5 linked regions of the Homo sapiens genome follow. Changing the gene in region 5 together with the main gene of any one other region gives a genetic interaction. Each region holds a gene or a part of one and is shown on either strand. Other genes may lie near its edges. The genes, in order: MRPL22, NDUFB2, GNL3L, EMC2 and METTL17.

Evidence for each region.
Region 1: changes in METTL17 (region 5) and MRPL22 together harm fitness less than expected from each alone (positive genetic interaction), as found in Homo sapiens cells (one large-scale study listed by BioGRID).
Region 2: changes in METTL17 (region 5) and NDUFB2 together harm fitness less than expected from each alone (positive genetic interaction), as found in Homo sapiens cells (one large-scale study listed by BioGRID).
Region 3: changes in METTL17 (region 5) and GNL3L together harm fitness more than expected from each alone (negative genetic interaction), as found in Homo sapiens cells (one large-scale study listed by BioGRID).
Region 4: changes in METTL17 (region 5) and EMC2 together harm fitness more than expected from each alone (negative genetic interaction), as found in Homo sapiens cells (one large-scale study listed by BioGRID).

The regions. Positions count from the first base shown.
Region 1 is NC_000005.10:154,954,487-154,958,075, reverse strand, and holds part of MRPL22 (large ribosomal subunit protein uL22m), read right to left. Parts: intron 1,706-3,589; coding exon 1,640-1,705; intron 942-1,639; coding exon 864-941; intron 1-863.
Region 2 is NC_000007.14:140,699,706-140,703,294, forward strand, and holds part of NDUFB2 (NADH dehydrogenase [ubiquinone] 1 beta subcomplex subunit 2, mitochondrial precursor), read left to right. Parts: intron 1-3,160; coding exon 3,161-3,305; intron 3,306-3,589. UniProt on the Homo sapiens protein: Accessory subunit of the mitochondrial membrane respiratory chain NADH dehydrogenase (Complex I), that is believed not to be involved in catalysis. Complex I functions in the transfer of electrons from NADH to the respiratory chain.
Region 3 is NC_000023.11:54,561,219-54,564,592, reverse strand, and holds part of GNL3L (guanine nucleotide-binding protein-like 3-like protein), read right to left. Parts: 3' UTR 1-3,374.
Region 4 is NC_000008.11:108,485,035-108,488,623, reverse strand, and holds part of EMC2 (ER membrane protein complex subunit 2), read right to left. Parts: intron 2,113-3,589; coding exon 2,026-2,112; 3' UTR 1-2,025. UniProt on the Homo sapiens protein: Part of the endoplasmic reticulum membrane protein complex (EMC) that enables the energy-independent insertion into endoplasmic reticulum membranes of newly synthesized membrane proteins.
Region 5 is NC_000014.9:20,992,944-20,995,310, forward strand, and holds part of METTL17 (ribosome assembly protein METTL17, mitochondrial isoform 2 precursor), read left to right. Parts: intron 1-174; coding exon 175-248; intron 249-1,025; coding exon 1,026-1,120; intron 1,121-1,599; coding exon 1,600-1,670; intron 1,671-1,850; coding exon 1,851-1,958; intron 1,959-2,221; coding exon 2,222-2,290; intron 2,291-2,367. UniProt on the Homo sapiens protein: Mitochondrial ribosome (mitoribosome) assembly factor. Binds at the interface of the head and body domains of the mitochondrial small ribosomal subunit (mt-SSU), occluding the mRNA channel and preventing compaction of the head domain towards the body.

The sequences.
Region 1 (3,589 bases), on a different chromosome or scaffold from region 5:
GTATGGTGGCGCGCAGCTGTAGTCCCAGCTACTCGGGAGGCTGAGGCAGAAGAATCGCTTGAACGCAGGAGGCGGAGACTGCAGTGAGCCAAGATGGCGCCACTGCACCCCAGCCTGTGCAACAGAGCTAGACTCCGTCTCAAAAAAAAAAAAAAAAAAAAGAAAAATATATGTAATAAAAAAAGAATATTCATGTTCCTAGAAAGAGTCACCACAATTACCATCAGCACATTTGTATCTAGTGAATTAGCTACATTTAGAGTTGGAAGGATCTTTAGGGGTCATCTAATCCAATTCCACATAGTTTAGGTGAGAAAAATAGAAACTGACTGGTTAAGTGTCTTGCCCACGGTCACAAGAAAAAGATCAGAGAAAGGACTAGAGTCCAAGTCTCTTGAGTTCCAGTCCAGGGCTCTTTCCATTTAGTTACAAAATTACTTAGTTATAAAAACTCTCCTTTATAGGAAAAAAAAAATCTTCAAAAAAATATACCTTGAAGTTCAGCCTTGCTCCAAGAAATAAATTATATACACAAACACACATACATACACACAAATACACACATATACGTACCAAGCCCCAAATCATTAAAAATAAGATTCATCACATCATAAGCAGTAAAAAACAGATAAATATTTGGTGGAAATAAAAGCACCTCAGGAAATAAACCCTAAAGCACACAACATTCCTAAAGTATACACATATTTAATAAACTGAGAACCCTAAATCTGTATTATATAAAGTATGCATTTACAACAGAAAATTTAGGGAATTCATGATTTAGGCTAAGCTTACTAATAATTGCAAGACAGCTGCATTCCCCAGTTCCCCATTCCCTACCACACCCAAACTTGTAAGTTTACCTCTTTAATTATTTTGGCCCCTTTTTTGTCATTGAATTCCAACTGAGCCAAAGCCTGGTCAATAGACATTCCTCGTATCTAGAATTAAAGGGTGAGAGACAAAAGAAAATAAATTAGTTTACAAAGTCAATGTTTCCTTTTCAATGAAAGTCTTACATAATTTGAGTAACTTCTAAAAACAGTGAATTGAACCCAAATAAAAGAGAAGAAAACAAGTTTGAGAGGAGACACTATTCTCTTTCAGTCAAAATGAAACAAACATTTTAACCATAAAACTGAGATTATAATAGTTTCAATAACATTAAAAGACAGCAAACATGACAGAGAGACCACAGGTTGGTAACAACCACACTAGGCATTCAAGGCATCTCCTTCTCCTATAGGATAAATGTATTACATGTATATTTGCTGCTTCAGTCTCCCCTCATCTATAAATTTCATTTCCTAGGGAAAAAAACTTAAAAGCAACAGTTTTAAAACAGGTTGAATCAAGTTTACAGATAAATAGGTGGGTTTCCTGGATTCTCTGGTTATAGCCAAACTCCTGATGCCTTTTAGTATCTATCTATCCAATGTGATTTAGTTTCTCAGAAAAAGGTGAAAATTAAGGAAAATCATACATCTCTGAACAATCATTCTTTTGACAACCTACCAATTATATCACATTCCTCACAAATCTTTTTTATTTTTCAAATCCTGGGGTGAGGGGTGGGGAGGGGAACTCATAGCTTCTTTCCTAAATTATTAATTATATGGTAATAGTCATTGCAGCTTACCAATTTTGCCAAATACCACATCTTGTCTTTGCTATATTTTATTTGTCTTCGACAGTGGTAGATTTCCTTACAAATTGGAAAAAAAAGGACAGAAAGAAAATGTTAGCAGGTTTACCACAAAATGACAATAACATATACTGTTATTTAAGTTTTTACTTTCTAGGCCTAAAGAAAATGCTGCCATAAGAAATAGAAACATTACTAAGAATTTAGAGATTATTTTCCCCTACACAAAGTTGTATTTTTCCAAAGTCTCACTATGTTAAAAGATTACTACGGGAGAAATAGAAACTATACAATGGCTGGTTTGTGTCAACACTTGCAACATTTCTATCCAAAGAAATCCTAAAAGATTTAAATGAAAGTATCTTTAAAACATTTAGCTGATTAAAAGAACAAAAGAAAAAGTACAAGAAAACGTTCATTATTAATGAGGAGAAAAATGGCAAAATGGACAAGTGTTTTCATGTGAAAAGCCAATATTCTAGGTGTTTGGCCAACAGCATAGGTTCTAGAATCAGACTGCCTGCCTGGATTTGAATCCTAACTCTGCCATTTACTAGCTACATAATCTTGAGCAAGCTACTTAACCTCTCTCTAATTTTCCTCTTCTGTAAAATAAATAAAACGATAATTAGAGGGAAATAAAGTAACCTATTTCAAGAAACCATTTTATAGTGCTTGGCACATGGTAACTTCTCAGTAAATGTTAGCTTTTATTATCTTCTATTTAAAGTTGTAGGTATGTCCTGTTTAATTACAATGTATAGTTCAAAAAGCACTTTTCACTCATTATTTCATTTAGTCTAACTCTATGAGTTGAGGGATGAAACATTTTACATATAAACTGAAAATCAGAGAAATCAAGTGACTTGTCTAAGACCAGAGGTTTGCAAGAGACAAAGTTGGAATTCAAAGAACAGAGAAGTATGATACACCTGATACAATGTCTAGCACATCTACTTTCAAAAGTTCCTCTATTGACTCTAAAACCCACTTTCTTTCCACTACTATACCAAACTGCCATTTAAAAAAAAATTAGAAAACATGTGTTATGGAAAACTATAGCAAGGAGGTCTCAAAACTTTCTAACATTCTGACTCCTGCTGGAAATTTTCAAATGCCTTAGAAAGAGCAGTTTTCTCAAGTGGCCATCTTTTAATATGTGGCAGATTTCAGTTGCAATAGAAGCAGACAGCCTGAAACTATAGCAATAGCCTAATTACATTTTCAGCAATAAAGTTTCTTGGGGAGACAGGGAGAGGAAAGAACTATCATGACTGATAATAATAATCTGCAAAAATTAATCCACTCAATGAAATCTTTCATATAGAAGAGACCCTTGGCCGGGAGCAGTGGCTCAGCCTGTAATCCCAGCACTTTGGGAGGCCGAGGCGGCCGGATCACAAGGTCAGGAGATCGAGACCATCCTGTGAATGGTGAAACCCCGTCTCTACTAAAAATACAAAAAAAAAAAATTAGCCGGGCATGGTGGCCGGCGCCTGTGGTCCCAGCTACCCGGGAGGCTGAGGCGGGAGAATGCCATGAACCCGGGAGGTGGAGCTTGTAGTGAGCTGAGATTGCGCCACTGCACTCCAGCCTGGGCGACAGAGCGAGACTCCGTCTCAAAAAAATAAAAATAAAAAAGAAGAGACCCTTTAATTTGTGCATTCTTGTGGTGGGATAATTTTAAACCTTAATTTTGTATGATTACCCTCAAATTTTACACATATAAACAATGGTAATCCTGACCAGAGGATGGCAAAAAGGAAGAAGTGTTTACAAGAAAGGCAAAAGTTAATCATCCTCTTCCAAAACTGAAAAAAAACCTCAGCATTTACTTTGGGCAGGTGAAATGTCTAAGGGCACTTTCTAAAGATAAACGAGACAAAGTCTCAGTACGTATCAAGCAAATAAAGTAACAAAGGTGGAGGTCAGAAGACCTAGTTA
Region 2 (3,589 bases), on a different chromosome or scaffold from region 5:
GATTGATTGCTTAGCTTCCAGGCCTTGTTTTTACTTGAATTTTGCTCTTGGTGGATTCCTTCCTTTTGTGCCTGGTCAGTGATGTTTGTAAAAATCTTAAAAATCTCATCTAGCAGCAGAGTTGTTAATTTGGAGGGTTGTTCAGGGTATCTAGTTTGCCACAATGCAGTTCACAACCTGGTTTGGAACATAACATTGTGAATTAGGTGTTGAGTCTTTGCATTCCTTAATCATGGCAATCCTTGTCATTGTTCCTGTGATATAATTGCAGACTTTCAAATCTTTGTTCCAAAAGGTTTCCATTTTGCAGTCCCTACTTCAGGTTATGATTAAAACAACATGTCACTCTAGCAATAACGAAGCGTGGGGAGCTGCTAAGATGGGTTTGAACTATAATGCTGGCATCGGCATTACTCAGATCTTTTTTGTTTTTTTGATACAGAATTTCGCTCTTGTTGCCCAGGCTGGAGTGCAATGGCACGATCTCAGCTCACCACATCCTCTGTCTCCCAGGTTCAAGTGATTCTCCTGCTTCAGCCTCCTGAGTAGCTGGGATTACATGCATGTACCACCATGCCCAGCTAATTTTGTATTTTTAGTAGAGACGAGGTTTTTCCACGTTGGTCAGGGTGGTCTCGAACTCCCGACCTCAGGTGATCCGCCTGCCTCGGCCTCCCAAAATGCTGGGATTACAGGCATAAGCCACCGTGTCCGGCCTTCAAATCTTGTTTTAATCAGTTTTACTGCTGGGCACTTATACCTAGATTGTATCAAAAAGCTATCAAAGAAGAAGGCTCTTGGCCGGGCACAGTGTGGCTCACGCCTATAATCCCAGCACTTTGGGAGGTCAGGGCAGGCGGATCACCTGAGGTCAGGAGTTCGAGACCAGCCTGGCCAACATAACGAATCCCTGTATCTACTAAAAATACAAAAATTAGCCGGGCATGGTGGCACATGCCTGTAATCCCAGCTACTCGGGAGGCTGAGGCAGGAGAATTGCTCGAACTGGGAGGCAGAGGTTGCAGTGAGCCAAGATTGTGTCACTGCACTCCAGCCTGGGTGACAGAGTGCGACTCCGTCTCAAAAAAAAAAAAAAGCTCTTGTTATACTATATTGAATGATCCTGCATGGTTTATTTACATAATGTAATATCTATATGCACAGCTAGATCCTGAATGAATAATATAATTGGTATATGAGGACATTACGGAAACAGTATGCTACGTCATTCAAGTTGTAAAGTGGCGATATTTGGTAGGACCTTTTAAACATGATACTTAAAAAAGTACATATATACACACATCTGCAAAAACTAAAAATCACCTTATTCATAATTAGTTATTAATACCTTAAATAGAGCATTCCAAATAAAAGTGTTAAATTTTGGATGACTATTTAGAAAAAAAAATGGAATTTATCATTTCAATATGGTAACATTGGTTTTATCATGCTGGTTGGAATTCTAGTTAAAAGTTATGTCTTTGATTAATAAAAGGAGAAAATTGTTAATGGTGTGTGTCTGTAGGCAACAGCTTAGGCTTTGCCATCACACAGCATCTCACTGGTAAATCATTAATAATTACAGGCCTTATCATAACATTATGAAAATTAAATGAATTAAAACTTATAAAATGCTTAGTGTGGTATCTGGCACATGGTAAACACTCAATAACTACCAGTCATCTTTTAGAGTGGGGGAGGATAAAAACAGTCTGCCAGCCTGGCAACATAGGGAAACCCTGTCTCTACAAAAAAAATATAAAAATTAGCCAGGTCTGGGGGTGTACACTTGTATGTAATCCCAGCTACTTGGGAGGGAGGCTGAGGCAGGAGGATTGCTTGAGCCCAGGAGGTGCTCAGTCAGCAGAAGGATCGCTTGAGCTAAGGTCACGCCACTGCACTCTAGCCTGGGCGACAGAGCCTATCTTTAAAAAAACAAACAAAACAGCCGGGCACGTGGCTCACGCCTGTAATCCCAGCACTTTGGGAGGCCAAGGTGGGTGGATCACCTAAGGTCAGGAGTTCGAGACCAGTCTGGCCAACACGGGGAAACCCCGTCTCTACTAAAAAAAAAACAAAAATTAGCTGGGCATGGTGGCGTACACCTGTAGTCCCAGCTACTTGGGAGGCTGAGGCAGGAGGATCGCTTGAACCCAGGAGGCGGAGGTTGCAGTGAGCCAAGATTGTTCCATTGCACTCCAGCCTGGGTGACAGAGTGAGACTCTCGCAAACAAACAAACAAAGAAAACAAACAGTCCTAGCTAACATGTATCAAGAACCACTGCCCTGTTACTGTTCACGAATCTGTGCATTATGAAGACAAGATATTTTAATGCACTTTTCCTACAGGTACGAATTTCTGTGCTACATAAAAGAGAATATGGTTTACAAGCTGATTCTTATCTAGATGAAATTGGTAAACATATTTTATATAGGAATTCTCTTAAAAATTTTTTATCCACTTCTGTTTATTAGCATATATATGGCTGATGAATAGGTTTTAGGAATAGCCCCAGTAGGTGCAAATAATTTAAATTAGATGCAACGTATAATATTTATACTCCAACTGAATAAATTGACTATAACTCTTATGGACTCTGTGCCACAACTTGTCAAGTGTCTGAATGAAAAGAAGAAAAAAGAAACACGTATTCAAACTTACTGTTTAAAGTTCTTTGTTCAGAGCCATTAGCATATTTAATAGGATTTGCGAGTCCTCTCTCCCATATGGTTGTCTTTTAATAAAGATTGTAATAGGCAGAGGACATAATTTGCCTCAAATAGATAGCTAAACAAAGCAAAATTAATTTATTTTTCTGAGTAAGTTAGTGACCTGCTAACAAGTTCACAGTCCCTTAACTAAAACCTTTGGGGCTAGCACCCCAGAATCAACACATTCAAATTTCTAGTGCAAAATAATGAATCTTCACTAATTGAAAACCAAAATTAGCCTCTTGTCAGTTTTGGTCAGTTTTTGCTGCTACACATGAAGCAAGCTTAGTAAAAAGTGAGTATTTCAAGGGATTGTGAACTTCTGTCTATATTTCAGTGGAGATGAGAAACATTAGCGTTGGTTCTAGGATGTAACTCAGAGGAGTTTTGGATGACTTAACGCTTTGAGAATGTAGCACGCTGTCTGCCATGTTGTTTTGTCTTGCAGTGCCGGTGGTGGTGTGCACATTGAGCCCCGGTATAGACAGTTCCCCCAGCTGACCAGATCCCAGGTGTTCCAGAGCGAGTTCTTCAGCGGACTCATGTGGTTCTGGATTCTCTGGCGCTTTTGGCATGACTCAGAAGAGGTGCTGGTAAGTGCAGGAGAAGAGCACTTGTCGTTTTTTGGGTGGGGGAGGGAGGATGTATTAATAGCTTGTTTATTTTTCTGTTGTAGACCATTTTTCTGTCTGGACATCGCCCTTTGCCACCACTTTTTCCATATGTATATACAAGAATCCTGTTATTTAATGAAACATGTTATCTTCTCACCTTTTTTTACACGAGGATGTATATTTAGGTGGTCCGTTTCTTATGGTTTCTGTTAGGTTGCCATCTTAGGGAGACTAAAAGCTCATTTTTTTTTTTTTTTTTTTTG
Region 3 (3,374 bases), on a different chromosome or scaffold from region 5:
CTACTAAAAATACAAAAATTAGCTGGGCGTGGTGGCGGGCGCCCATAATCCCAGCTACTCGGGAGGCTGAGGCAGGAGAACCGCTTGAACCCTGGAGGCGGAGGTTGCAGTGAACCGAGATCACGCCACTGCACCACTCCAGCCTGGACAACAGAGCTAGACTCTGTCTCAAAAAAAAAAAAAAAAAAAAGAGAACGAAGAAAAAAACCAGTGACTGCCAGGGTTTGGGTGTAGGGGACTGGTTTTGACTACAAAGTAGCAGGAATAAATTTGGTAGGGAGAGGCTAAGAGGACTGTTCTGTACCTTGGTTGCATTGGTGGTTACACAACTCTACACATTTATCAGAGCTTTATAGAACTGTATACCAGAGTGAATTTTACTGTAATGTAAATGTTTATAATTTTTAAAACCTGAAGGCATAAAATAAGCCTACTCATTGTATGATTCTATTGATATGACAGTCATACTAAAGCAAAACTATAGGGGCAGAAAACAAATCAGTGGTTAGCAGAATCTGAGGGTCGGGGGTAGGAGTTGACTACAAAAGGGCCTGGAGAGTTTTAGGGGGGTGATGCAACTATATTTCGATTGTGGTAGTGGTTCACTCCTGTATATGTTTGTACAAACTCACATAACTAAAACTATAAAGAGTGAACTTTACTATATGTAAATTGTACCCTAATTGTTTTGAAAAATGAAGGTAAAAAGTTAAGAAAATACTTTTTTAAAAAAAACCTTTGAGATATGCTGTAGGTAGAGAAACTGCACTCCCAACGTCTTTTTTGTTTTCCTCTTTTTTTTTCCCCCTGAGACAGTCTCACTCTGTTGCCCACGCTGGAGAGCAGTGGCACAATCTCGGCTCAATGCAGCATCGACCTCCTGGGCTCAAGAGATCCTCCTGCCTCAGCCCCATAGGTAGCTGGGACTACAGGCATGAGACACCATGCCCAGCTAATCTTTGTATTTTTTTGGTAGAGATGAGGTTTCGCCATATTGTTTAGGCTGGTCTTGAACTCCTGACCTCAAGTGATCCGCCTGCCTCGGCCTCCCAAAATGCTGGGATTACAGGTGAGAGCTATCGTAACTGGCCTGCAGTCCCAAATTCTTACCGACATGACTACTTTAGTTCTGTTTGATTTTGGCCAAATTATGCTCCCATGCTGTTTCTTACTCATTTAGATACTTCCATTTCTAATATTTACCTCCCAGCACTTCTCCATTACCGATGGGGTCACCTCCTGATAAACCCGTAATTTGCACATTACAATGGGTTTACCAGGAAGTAGCCCCATCATAAGTAGAGGTGCATTCTGAATGTATACTGCTTTTCCACCAAAAATCCCACATCAAACCACCAAAAGTCGGGGACTGTCTGTATTTTAAATGCTAAATTATGAAACGCTGTATGGTTGCAAAATAGACTTAGCTGTCCTGGTATGCAATTTTTCATTATAACACTATCACATACCAGGAGAGTTCAATGAGATAGTGTGAAATAAGTTGTAGCCTATTCAAGAGCACATAGTTTTAGCAAGACACTAAAAACTAGTAGTTTAAGAAACTAGAGTTTTTTAAACCAAAAAAGAAAAAATTTAACGTTAAATGCATTTAACGGACTTGATAACAGAGACTGGCACAAAGTAGGGGCTTAATCAATCTTCCTTTGTTAAGGAGGCAGTACAATATAGAGGAAAGGGCCTGCATAGGGTTTTAATCACGCTTGGGTTCCAATCCTAGCACCACCACTTAATACGCCCACTTGGGTCTGGCCATCCTGTCAACTTTTTTTTTTTTTTTCCGAGACGAAGTCTCACTCTGTCCCCCAGGCTGGAGTGCAGTGGTGTGATGTCGACTCACTGCAACCTCCGCCTCCTGAGATCAAGTGATTCTCCTGCCTCAGCCTCCTGCATAACTGGGATTACAGGTGTGAGCCACCATGCTCGGCCAACATTCTGAGATTACTTTTTTTTTTCATTTGGGGAGACGAATCCCTTACTAGCAGAGCTGTATTGAGGGTTAACGGTGGTAATGGGTCTCCAGGGCTTGGTGCAGTTTGTACTCAACAAGTACGTAATTCTCTCCTTTGGTTGCCCCTGAATACAAGAGTGGTCTTGTACTTCCCTGCCTGAACAGTCCACAGCCAATGGCACTCCAGTCCTTGTCACATGGTTCCACTCTTAGGATGTAAATTAGGAGGTACCAGCTTGAGAGGCAGAGGCAAAGGTAAGGTTAAGATGCAGCTGTGAGGCTGGGCACAGTGGCTCACGCCTATAATCCCAGCACTTTGGGAGGCCGAAGCGAGTGGATCACTTGAGGTCAAGAGTTCGAGACCAGCCTGGTCAACATGGTGAAACATCGTCTCTACTAAAAATACAAAAACTAGCCAGGCGTGGTGGCAGGTGCCTGTAATCCCAGCTACTTGGGAGGCTAAGGCAGGAGGATCACTTGAACCCGGGAGGCAGAGGTTGCAGTGAGCCGAGATCACGCCATTGCACTCCAGCCTGGGCAACAGAGCAAAATAAATAAATAAAGGTGCAGCTGTGGGTCGAAGGATGGTGTGGAAGTTTGGGGTAGACATCCAAGACTGCAGTAATGCTATGCCCAGGGTATATTTTGGGGCAAAACCCCCAAAATACCCTGGCAAAGAAAGAAGATTGTGTTTCAGTTGCAATCATCTACCCTAATCCCTTTCTGAGGGCCTCTGGCACTGCTTGGGCTCACTGCCCTTGTCTGATGGGGTAGGATCTCCCAGAGGAGACAGCTAATTATACTTTAATGAGGTGACTTACAGACACTGGAAAAGGAGTTGGCTGGTACACTCCCATATATAGCAGCTCTCTCGAGGATACAGTCTGTGAATAAATGGTACCAGAACCCTCTTGAGCCATGGAATTCAAATGCTGGTGCAATAGGAGACATGGTCACACAAGGGCAGGGTCCAGCCAGAGTACTTCAGTTAAAGAGATTCCTCCAATTCACAATCTGCCCAGAAATGCCCCCAAGACGGGGCTTCCCCCTAAAGCCTCCCTACTAACAGGTGCTTTGTTTTCTCTTCACGCAAACAGGGTAGTGCCTACCACACTTCAGCACAAGCCAGGCTTGTTTGTTCTCTTCTTCCCTCTACCCTATCCCTAGAACCTTCCAGAGACACAGGAGGCTCATTACTTTCTACTTTTTCTCACTGCCACCCAGGTGAAGACCTATGGACTTGGAAGATGCATGGCCCAAAGCCCACTGCAGGCATGCCTTGCCACTGAAATCTCCTGTGGGGTGGTAAAGAAACCATCACCCTCCCGCAGGGACCCCCAGGTCTACCAGCAACCTAACTTCTAGTGGCATATTCACCTGTCTAAGAGAGTTTTGTAGGCAGAGT
Region 4 (3,589 bases), on a different chromosome or scaffold from region 5:
TAAAGAAGAAATAAAGGTAATAGCTGTAGGCAACTGCCTGCTGTAATGGGATTATCAGTACATTTAAGTTGAAGTTTATAAATAACTAAGGATTGGCAATGTGCTTAACAAATATAAAATCTTGGAAAGAAGTTATTAAAATTTTGAAAAAATAAAGTGATACTGGCCAGGCTCAGTGGCTCATGCCTGTAATCCCAGCATTTCGGGAGGCTGAGGCGGGTAGATCACTTGAGGCCAGGAGTTTCAGACCAGCCTGGCCAACATGGTGAAACCCCATCTCTACTAAAAATACAAAATTAGCCAGGCATGGTGGCACATGCCTGTAGTCCCAGCTACTCAGAGGCTGAGGCACAAGAATCGCTTGAACCCGGGAGGAGGTTGCAGTGAGCTGCGATCACGTCACTGCACTCCAGCCTGGGTGACAGAACGAGACTGTCTCAAAAAAAAAAAAAAAAAAGTGAAACTAAGGCAGACAGCTATAAGAGGCACTGAATTACTTATTACACAAATATAATTGCTAGAGTAAACACTAATCCAGTGACTGACGGGGAGGAGGTTTGAAGGGGAAAAGGTAGTGAAACAACGTGCAGGCACTATTTTCTTTACAGAAAATGTAAATTTCAAATGGTTCATCATGTTGAAAATGCAGTTACTAATTTCATGTGTACAAAGACGGGATCTTTGTGGTAATAAAGATTAGTAGAGAATTACCTTCAGATGAGAAGAGTTCTTTCACAGAATATATTAATCAGCTGCCTATTACTCGTGGCAGAATAAAACGAAAATGACTGTAATATGAAAGATTAGACTAGATATGGAGAATAATTTATTAGCAGAACTATTCAAAAGGTTAAAAGAAGCTGATATTGACAATACTTTTCTTTCTAAACACTTCTAGATTGTCAATTCCTCCACAATCCCCACTTGTCCAAAGCAGCAATGACAAGTCTGTAGATGCCTCTGTATATTTTTAGTAAAAATAAATTTAAATATATTTATTATAAACAAATACCATAAATATTTGCGGTGAACAGTTGCTATTTTAAAAACTGATTTGTGTCTAAATGAAATTTAACTTTCAAGTCTCTTCTATTTTGTTGAAACATGTCAAATACTGTTGAAGGTAGCATAATGGTTGTTTATTATGAAAAGAGAAAAATAAAAAATTCTAACTAAGGTAATGATAGAATAGGAAAATTTTAACATTTTTGTTTCTAAGGATAGTTTTAATTTTCTTATTTTTTTCAAAATTAAAAATAACTACAACCCCTTTAATCCCTACTCTTTATGATTCTTTAATATTCTTTCATGTAATTTACTATTAAAGGATTCAATAAATATAACTTGCATAAAAGTTAAAGTGTCGTAACACATATTTATCTTAAGGCATTTTATATGTAAAAATCTCAATTATGTCCTATATCAAAACAAAAATTTTACAAAGAAATATTGCTGAACTTTGGAGAATGACATATTTTAAGCAAGATTCATCAGAAGGATATTACAGCAGATAAAACAATTCAAATAGCCCACTGGAATGTACAGCAAAATCCAATTCGACAATATAAACAAAGTCAAAATAATCTGCTTCGGTCAGCTACATATGCTGTGACTTTGCTATCACCAGTAAGGAGTTAACTAGAAACTGAGTTCTTAAACAATATATCCACTGTGAGTATAACAAAATGAAGTTAGAATCTTCATATGCAAGTTTAATAAATCATCATGGTTTATTTAACAAGGTTATACTACATTAGAGTTTTATATATATACATGTATATGTGATATGAAGAGACTGATGTACAATCAATAAGTCTTAAATCTCTCTTCCATGGATTTCCCCCATCTCCCCACTTAGCAGTAAAAGGCATTTTTAGGTTTATATAAACACATTCTTTACAACTGCCTTCTTAACAGAAAATTACTGTAGTATATAAATAGCACTGAGCATTTAGTAAATAAGTTACAGGCCAATAAGTTCAATTGTGCAGTTGTGAAATCTAATGTCAAAGAGTTTTTGAAACCTTAAGACTGGGTGATCTGCAATGTTTCCAACATGTCTTCGACAGCCTTAAGAGAATATTTGGTTTCCTTCTTACTTCGACCTGCAAACTAATTAAAAAAAAAAAAAAAAAGCTCAATTAGGCTCAATTTCAGTGGCAGGTTAAAAATGACAATCTTCACACTGTTAATGAAACTTAACATTGACTATTTTATCACTAGTAGGAAATCAAATATATTCTTTGCTTTTTCAATAAGAATAAAATTTGAGTATTAAGGACATTTTCCTTTAAGGTCTTACCTTCAGCTGAAGTGTACAGAGAGTTCACTGCACACTTGGCCAGTTTAAGTGTTTACATAATATAATAACCCATAAAATCATGTATTTGAAACTATCTTATTCAGACCAAAATAATGAAATAAAAAGTATAATTTTAAAATGCAATTTAGCTTATATTTATGTAGTGTAGCAGTGTGAACCACTTCCACTTGTCTGATGTCTAAACAGATTTTTACAATTTCAAACAAAGGTACAATACAAATACAAGTTATTTCACTAAACATTTTAAAGTTGCAAGTACTCTCTAAAATTATTTAAAGTAGCTCATAATTTTTTTTAAGTTTCCAGATTTATTAGTTAACTAAATGATATGGTTCTGCAAAGAGCTGTCAAGTAAAAACCTATGCTACACATTAAAACAATGTAAACATGTTTTAAAATATGCATTTCTACTTTATTAATTGTAATTTATTTACATTATAAAACTAATTGGGATTGGATTTTACTATGAAAACAAAATAAATACATCAATATATACACAAAATATACCCTATATTTGTGTATTTAAAAGCAAATTCATGGCATATTAAATTCAATATCATACACATAACCGCTGGAGGGAAACACTGTTGAATACCACATGCTGATTTCAAAATGAGTTTGTTAACTGGACTGACAATTCCCATCATTTATCAGTCTGATTTAAAACAAAAGATTTACTAGATAAGTAAGTGTTCCTTGATGGAGATGGGAGAAAGTTTATTGTGTGTGTATGTGTGTGTGTGTGTATATATATATACATATATATATTATATATATGTATATATATTAATTATATATTATGTATATATTTTATATATATATGTTACCTATATATATTATATATATGTATATATATTAATTATATATTATGTATATATTTTATATATATATATGTTACCCATTTTCTCCCTGGTTAAATATGATTAAAATACTTGGTATTAGCAACATCTAGTGTTTTCAAGTTAACATCAAACCACTCAATACATTTTCAAGTGAATGATCATTTCTTCAAGTAACAATGCTGTCTTAAGCACTTAGTACTTGATTTATGATGTGTTTCTTGTCTTCTGTAATTAACTTAATTTGGCAAACTTCTCATGACCTGTTCAGAAAGATTAAGTGATCAAACACAGGTAACATCATAGAAGTAACAAGCTTCAGGAATTGGTAACCTGTCTCTGACCCCTCTGGCTACAGCTTAACATTATGATTCCCTCACTTCCTACACTCTAAACCATTAGATTAGTTTCTGTAGCTGAATCCTGA
Region 5 (2,367 bases):
AAGAAAGGTTTAGAATCACTATTTTAGGAGATTCTTATCCCATAAGGTATTTGTATTGAATCTCAAAAGGCATTCACATCTCACATCCTCTGTGATAGCCTCCTAATTCACATTTATCAAGGTCCTAAATAAGTATCTAATTACCCTACTGTGGGATGTTGTATATTTCTTCAGATCCGGGCTCGAAATCCAGCATTTCAGCCACAAACTTTGATGGACTTTGGCTCAGGTACTGGTTCTGTCACCTGGTGAGTAACTTTCTTCAGCCCTATCTTGGTCAATTTTAGCTCTAGAAAGCCATACTTACACCACTCCAAAATTAACAGACTGGAAAACCAGAGGGAGAATAGGCAAGTTGGGAATCTATAATGTTTCTTCCATCAGATTAGGCAAGGCAGAAGAAGGTATATGGATTGGGGCCAGAACTTAAAAGAAATGTCAAGTAAAAAAAGGCGCATGTGTAGAAAAATTAAAAAGAAAAGGAATTATCAATCAAAGTTGTTTTTGCCTACAAATAGTATTTTGAGTCTACCTTTTTTTTTTCTTTTTTGAAACGGTGTCTCACTCTGTCGCCCAGGCTGGAGTGCAGTGGCACAATCTCGGCTCACTGCAGCCTCCACTCCTGGGTTCAAGTGATTCTCCTGCCTCACCCTCCCGAGTAGCTGGGACTACAGGTGCACGCCACCACACCCAGCTAATTTTTGTATTTTTAGTAGAGACGGGGTTTCACCATATTGGCCAGGCTGGTCTCTAACTCCTGACCTTGTGATCCGCCCACCTTGGCCTCCCAAAGTGCTGGGATTACAAGCATGAGCCACTGTGCCCAGCTGAGTCTACCTTTTTTTTTTTAGGAGTTGTAAATAAAACAAGAAAATAACACTATTAGTTATTTTATTACTAACTATACAACTACTTTAACATAACACTCTCTTTTCCCAGGGGTGGGGTTGGGTGTAAATGGGCCTCTTGTAGAGATGACTCTTGGTCATGGGAATTGGTGATTTATAATAATTTTGCCATCTTAGGGCTGCTCACAGTATTTGGGGCCAGAGCCTACGTGAATATATGTGTGTGGACAGATCAGCTGCCATGTTGGTTTTGGCAGAAAAACTACTGAAAGGTGAGTGCAAGAGCACTTCCAAAGTTGAGGGAGTTAAGAAAGCAAAGGGGTACTAGTAAAAGTGTTTTACTGGGAAGTAGAGAAGAGGGTAAAAATTAAGATGAATCTGGTTTACTTTTAAAGTTATAGTCAAGCAAAGGGTGGTATTAGAGGTTTCTGCTGGACTGAGGATGGGTTGGGTAAGAATCAAAGGACAGGAGGCCTAATATTCTCCCTGCCCTTTTTTTTTTTTTTTTAATTAGAGGTAGGGTCTCCATATGTTACCCAGGCTGGTCTCAAACTCCTGGCCTCAAGCCATCCTCCCACTTCAGCCTCTAGGGTAGCTGGGATTACAGGCACGCACCGCCATACCTGGCTCATCCCTGCCCTTTTTGATATACACTTTACCTATTCTTGGGGCCATGTTTCTTATCTGGATATCTCTTCAGTTTATACCTAACTTCCTACACACTCACAGTTGCCTCTTCTTTTCTCCACAGGTGGTTCAGAATCTGGGGAGCCTTATATTCCAGGTGTCTTTTTCAGACAGTTTCTACCTGTATCACCCAAGGCAAGTGGCAGTGTTTAGAATATTCTAAATGTGGAATGTGGCAGATGGAAAACTATGGCTTGAGCTTTGCAGCCCAGCACTGAGTGTTAGAAGATAAAAGAAATTTAGCGGCTAGGACTTTGTTGTATTCTTGGGATGTAGAGATGTTGAGTCTGTCATGTTCCTTGTCTTGGTCCTCAGGTGCAGTTTGATGTAGTAGTGTCAGCTTTTTCCTTAAGTGAACTGCCCAGCAAGGCTGACCGCACTGAGGTAGTTCAAACCTTATGGCGTAAGACAGGTCATTTCCTGGTGAGTTAAAATTCCTTGTTCTCCTTAAGTCTTGAAGCAGCTTCATGGATTTCATGCCTTTGCTCCTCTCATTGTCTTTATTCTTCACCATTTTTCTCCTTCATGGGTTTCTTTATCCCTCTTTGAGGGTCTCCATCCTGATTATGTAATGCCTATTTCTTTTTAGGACTCCTTCTCCCTCTATGATTGCTCTTACACAGCTACTGACATTTATACTTTCGTGTAATTCAAGTCTTCTGCATATTTTCCCCTTTTGTGAACAGGTACTGGTGGAGAATGGAACAAAAGCTGGGCACAGCCTTCTCATGGATGCCAGGGATCTGGTCCTTAAGGTAAGGCTTCTTCTTCCCTCACTCCCCCACCCATATGGCACCAATTACTGTTACTCTCTTGAAAACGAAAGAGACTG